Regions from separate parts of the Homo sapiens genome. Here region 2 is linked to region 1. The links come from fine-mapping of genetic effects on gene expression. A gene starts in region 1. The other region holds a variant in brackets. All regions are shown on one strand. Distances are between the middles of the regions.

Evidence for each region. PIP is the estimated chance that this variant, and not a neighbour inherited with it, causes the effect.
Region 2: its variant is the best candidate, but not a certain one, in a credible set for the expression of SLC25A45 in whole blood (TOPMed, PIP 0.73).

The regions. Positions count from the first base shown.
Region 1 is chr11:65,381,210-65,384,109 of GRCh38, forward strand. SLC25A45 (solute carrier family 25 member 45) reads right to left here and starts at 1,437. Exons shown (of 7, transcript NM_182556.4): 1 at 1,277-1,437; 2 at 706-760. The coding sequence starts at 742. It also overlaps a transcript of FRMD8 not described here. RefSeq lists enhancers at 546-1,074, 623-752, 740-1,939, 883-1,162, 1,075-1,602 and 4 more and a silencer at 2,569-2,863.
Region 2 is chr11:65,216,345-65,219,244 of GRCh38, forward strand. It overlaps the pseudogene SLC22A20P. Among named protein-coding and RNA genes, the nearest start is that of CAPN1, 36 kb to the left of the region's middle. RefSeq lists enhancers at 368-931, 932-1,495. The variant C/T (reference allele first, on the strand shown) is at 1,552.

The DNA.
Region 1 (2,900 bases):
AGCTTCAACCTCCTGAGCTTAAGGGCTCCTTCCACCTCAGCCTCTGGAGTAGTTGGGACCACAGGCGTGCGCCACCGCGCCTGGCTAATTTTTGTATTTTTAGTAGAGACGGGGTTTCACCATGTTGGCCAGCCTGGTCTCGAAATCTTGACCTCATGATCCACCTACCTCAGCCTCCCAAAGTGCTGGGCTTACAGGCATGAGCCACCGCGCCCAGCCTCTCATTTCTTATAAAGACAGGGTCTTCCTATGTTGCCCAGGCTGGTCTCAAACTCCTGGCCCCAAGTGATCCTCCTACCTCAGCCTCGCAAAGTGCTGGGATTACAGGTGTGAGCCACCATGCCCTGATTCTTTTTTTTTTTTTTTTTTTTTTTTTGTGGCAGGGTCTCATTCTGTCACCCAGGCTGGAGTGCAGTGGTGCAGTCATAGCTCACTGCAGCCTTGAACTCCTGAGCTCAAGCAATCCTCCTAAGTAGCTGGGACTACAGGTGTGAGCCACCATGCCCAGCTAATTATTTTGATTTTTTTGTAGAGACAGGGGCCTCCCTATGTTGCCCAGACTGGTCTCAAACTCCTGGGCTCAAGTGATCCTCCCGCCAGGCCGGAACTCAGACTTTGGTCTCTGCTCCTCCCATGTCACCCATCTTCCCGAGGAAGTGACCTACCATTGGGTGTGATGTGACAGAAGGAAGAAAAATGTCTCACCAGAGATCCAGCCAGCCACAAATTCCTCCACCGGCATTGTCTGGGCTTGCGGGAACTGGTGGCTCCAGCAGAGGAGACAGAGTTGAATTCCCCCCTCTCCCTCCCCTGGCCCACGCTGATAACCTCCCACTAATGTTTAACCCTGGCGGGAAGGTGAGAATTGGCCTGGTGCCCAGACCTCCGGCAACTGGCAGAGGAGAGCGAGCCAGTTCCGGTGACCCTGGCCACCTGGAGGAGTCGTGCAGAGTACAGTCTCACGGGCCAGGCGTGCCGGGACCACAGAGGCCCTGATCCCCGAGCCCGGCCAATGATCCTCGCTCTGAGGATGGCAACTGGGTTCCTGCCCCATGGTCGGGCCCCTCCAGGGCTGCCTTAGTCAGCAAGAGGCAAGCCCCTGCCTGCCCAGCCAGCCCAGCTCCACTCCCATTCATCTCCACCAAGGGGCATGGCCGCCCCCATGCCACAGAGAGAGGCCGGGTGCGGAGGTAGCGTGGCCACCAGGGGGTAGGCCCAGCCCGCATTTGCCGCTGCGTGGCAGGGTGGGGAGGAGCCACTCCCAGGAGTGACTCACCAGGCCTGGCTGTTCTCTTCAGGGTTGTTTACGACTCCCCCGACTCCCCCGTGTGAGTCAGAAACACAGCCTTCCTCGGCTTCCTCCTTCCCAGGGGAAAGATAGGGGTTTTGATTATTTAAAGTGCGTGTTGATCTGCAATGGCACCATTCTGCTCAGTCAAAACCAAAACCCTTTCAAGGATCTGTGAGCCACAGGGTGCCGCCCATTCTCCTCTGACCTCACGTCCTGCCACCCACCCCCTTGCTTTCTCTGCTGCAGCCACCCGAGCCTCCAGACTCTTCTTCAGTCAGCCTTCTGTCTCCAGGCCTGTGGACTGGCTCTTCCCTCTTCCTGGGCACTCTTGCCCTGGCACCCCTCCAGCTGGGGCTCAAATGTCACCACCTGGGTGAGGTCTGCCCCGCCTCCCCAGCCGGAGGCACTGCTGGCTCTTCCTCTCTTTCTCCATCACAGTTATCACGCCAACATACGATGGGAAGAACTTGTCTGTCTGGACAGGGATCTCTGGGTGTTCTGTGCACAGCGGGTGGCACAGGGTGGGCTCTCAATAAATCCTGAGTGACTGAATGAACGGAAATGTCAGCCAGCAGCATCAGCGGCAGCCTGGGGCTCCAGTTCCCTCTTCCCATCACCAAACGGCCCTGGGAAACATCAAGGCCCAGTGACACCTGCACCCTCCCCTCCAGATCTCCCCGCAGCTCCTAGTCTCCCATGGGGGACGCCCAAGGCCCAGTCCTTCTCTCCCTTCTCCTCTCACTGTGGCCAAGGCAGAACCCACCCACCCCTGCTGCTTTCTCCCGGGTGGACAGATTCGGGAAACAGGACCTCCTACCTCCTGCCTCTGGAGCTGCCTGGGGCTCCTTGGGCCACCCCCAAAGATCATCCTAAAAGACCATCCCCAAAGACTGGCCTCTCGTGGTGGCTTGGGCTGCAGTCCTGGTTCTGCTTCTTATTCCTGAAACTGCCTTTGCAAAAACTATAACTGATACAGGCCAGGCGCAGTGGCTCACGCCTGTAATCCCAGCACTTTGGGAGGCCGAGGCGGAAGGACCACCTGAGGTCAGGAGTTCGAGACCAGCCTGACCAACATAGTGAAACCCCATCTCTACCAAAAATACAAAAATTAGCCGGGTGTGATGACGGGCGCCTGTAGTCCCAGCTACTTGGGATGCTGAGGCAGGAGAATCGCTTGAACCCGAGAGGCAGCTGTTGCAGTGAGCCAAGATCATGCCACTATACTCCAGCCTGGGCAACAGAGCGAGACTCCGTCTCAAAAAAAAAAAACAAACAAACAAACAAAAAAAAAACCCTCCTGTCTCTCGTACAGCCAGCTCTGCATGAATTAAACTCTCCTTATTGCAATTCCCCTGTCTTGACAAATTGGCTCTGTCTAGGCAGAGGGTAAGGTGAACCCAATGGGCGGTTACATTATCTCTCTCAGTGATGTTGAGCAACCTCTTCTGTGGGCCTTGGGGTCTATTATTGTTTGCCAAAGTAGGACAGCAGTCGGGCTAATTGATGTCTAAGCCTCTCAGCTCTAAAGGCTGGAGGCCGCCTCCTCCCTCACTTCAGAATGGGTCTCATTCTCTTTTCCAATCTCACCGCCTCACCCCAGTTTGAGAAA
Region 2 (2,900 bases), 160 kb before region 1:
GTGAGTGGGTGAGCGAGCGAGTGAGCAAGTGAGTCAGTGAGTGAGTGGATGAGTGGGTGGGTGGGTGAGTGGGTGGGTGGGTGAGTGGGTGGGTGAATGAGTGGGTGGGTGGGTGGGTGAGTGAGTGGGTGAGTGGGTGGGTGGCTCGGTGGGTGAGTGAGTGAGTGCATGAGTGAGCGAGTGAGTCGGTGAGTGAGTGAGTGAGTGGGTGGGTGAATGAGTGAGTAGGTGGGTGGGTGAGTGGGTGGGTGAGTGAGTGCGTGGGTGGGTGAGTGAGTGCGTGGGTGGGTGAGTGAGTGGGTGGGTGAGTGGGTGAGTGAGCGAGTGAGCGAGTGAGTCGGTGAGTGAGTGGATGAGTGAGTGGGTGGGTGAGTGGATGGGTGAGTGGGTGGGTGGGTGAGTGAGTGGGTGGGTGGGTGGGTGAGTGAGTGGGTGAGTGGGTGGGTGAGTGAGTGGGTGGGTGGGTGAGTGAGTGGGTGGGTGAGTGGGTGGGTGAGTGAGTGGGTGGGTGGGTAAGTGAGTGGGTGGGTTGGTGGGTGGGCGAGTGAGTGAGTGGGTGGGTGAGTGAGTGGGCGAGCAAGCGAGTGGGTCATGGAGTGTGTGGAGAAGAAAAGCTGCCTGTCTTCTTGGCCTGCTTCCCTGCTGGCCAAGTTGAGGCTGTGCGCTCTGGCCCTGGACCCTCATTTGCAAACAGGGCAGATCACCCTGCCATCCTGTCCTTGGGCCCCTCTGTGGCATGGCAACCCTCTGGTCCACATAATGACTCCACCCTGGCTCCTGCTCCCACACCAGGGACTGGCCAAGGGCTCACCCGCTGTGAGTTCTGGTTCGAGGCCTCCCTCCAGCCACAGCAGTGCTCAGGTGACCTCTCCCCACCTGCCACACGCCCCTCTGGGGCTTTGCAGAATCCCTGCCTTTCCTCGAGCCCGGACTAAATCTCCTCGCCAGCTTCCTTCTACACTATGTCCCTCTGTCTGTGACCAACCTCTGCCACGAAGCCTGGGTCCCAGCAGTTTCAAGTTTCTGTTTTGGAAGGGTGGCTTTCGCGGGGTACCCCATCTTCCCCGGGACTGCCTTGATAATCCCCTGCTCGGGTGAAAGGGGCAGGCGTGGGCTGCCCATTTGTTCCTTGGGGGATGCTGCTGCTGCCTCCCAAAACCCTAATGCCTGTGCCCATTCTCTGGACTCAGGCTGGGCTGCAAGGGCCCCCTGGTCTGGTCCTACCTGCAGCTGGCAGCTTCGGGGGCCGCCACAGCGTATTTCAGCTCCTTCAGTGCCTATTGCGTCTTCCGGTTCCTGATGGGCATGACCTTCTCTGGCATCATCCTCAACTCCGTCTCCCTGGTGAGTCCAGCCGAGGAGAGGCCAGGAAGGGCGGGGGCTCCTGAAAGAGCAGGGCGGGGGCGGGGGGACAGGGGGGTGGCAACGTCGAGGGTCATCGGACATTTTTCTCATGTTGTTTTGTTGGGATTCTCATCCAGCAACCTCAACTCAAAGCCTCCCGCCAGAGTTCTGGACCTGGGGGACCTGGGCTCCCGGGTAGTGGTGGCC[C/T]TGCTGGCTGTGGGTGGGGAGTCCCTGGATGGCCTTTCCCAGGTCTGGGCTTTAGTGTACTCATCTGTAAATTGAGAGGGTTAGGTTTATTTTATTTGTGAATTAGCCAACAATAACCACTTACTAAGCACCTATTGTCTCCAGGCTTAGTGTGGGGACACAGAGGCCACTGGGACACAGGAGAGGAGTGAGCCATGATGGTCCCCAGGGCAGCAGCCAGCCCTGAAATTGTATGACTCTATGAAGGCTGGTGATTCCTCAGCTTCATGGTGGAGACCTGGCTCCTGGATGCCAGCTTGGAGTGTTGCGCCCCCAAGTGATAAGTGGCAGGCTCAGTCCTCACTCTAGGCTGGTTCTGGGCAGCCCCTGGGTGGTCCTAGGAGAAAGCATCACGGGGCAGAAGGAAGCCCACCCAGGACACAGGCCTGCCACCTACCTATGTTTCATTTTAACTACTTAGCTTGCTCCTGGGGACACCACTGGGCACGGAAACTGCTGCCACCATCAGCTGTGCAAAGACAGGATGGATCTTTTATATCAGGGGTCAGGAAGAAATCTTGGGACCAGAGAACCAGGACACCTGACCTCCCCTCCCTCTCCCAGCACACAGCGGGATCTCAGCCAATCCCAGCCTACACAGCTCACTCTGCAGGGTGGGCATCCAGCCATGGCTTGAAACAGGTGTCTGAGGTCCACCTCGTGCTGGAATGGGCTCTAACACCTACACAGACACATACAGACACACACAGACACATACAGACACACATACACACGCATCAGAGACTGCCCAGCCTCTTAACACTTCCTGAGGCTGGAGAGGCCGGGCACTGTCTGGGGACATCTCCGCCTGTAAAGACGACTTTGTAGAGATTCCATCGAGTGCCCTGGAGCTCCCACCACAGGCCATGCCCTGCCTCGGGTCCCACCGCACAAGTGTGGTGACCCTCCATACATATATGCCTCCCCTCATGTTTGTTCCTGCGCACACTGTTCTGTATCTTGATTCTTTCACTTAACCAAGCTGTCACTGGTCCACTGCCTGATAGAGAGCCTCCTAGTGCCAGGAGAGGCTCTAGAGGTTGCGGTGAACACAGCCCTGCTCCTTGGAGTCCATGTTCTAGCGAGGCGAGATATCACCAGCATGCATAACGAATCGTATAGTATGTTCGAAGACAGTAAGTGCTACAGAGGAAAACCGAAGCCTGGAAAGGGGATAAGAATGGCCGGGTTGGCCAGGCGCAGTGACTCATGCCTGTAATCCCAGCACTTTGGGAGGCCAAGGCGGGCAGATCGCCTGAGGTCAGGAGTTTGAGACCAGCCTGGCCAACATGGTGAAACCCTGTCTCTAC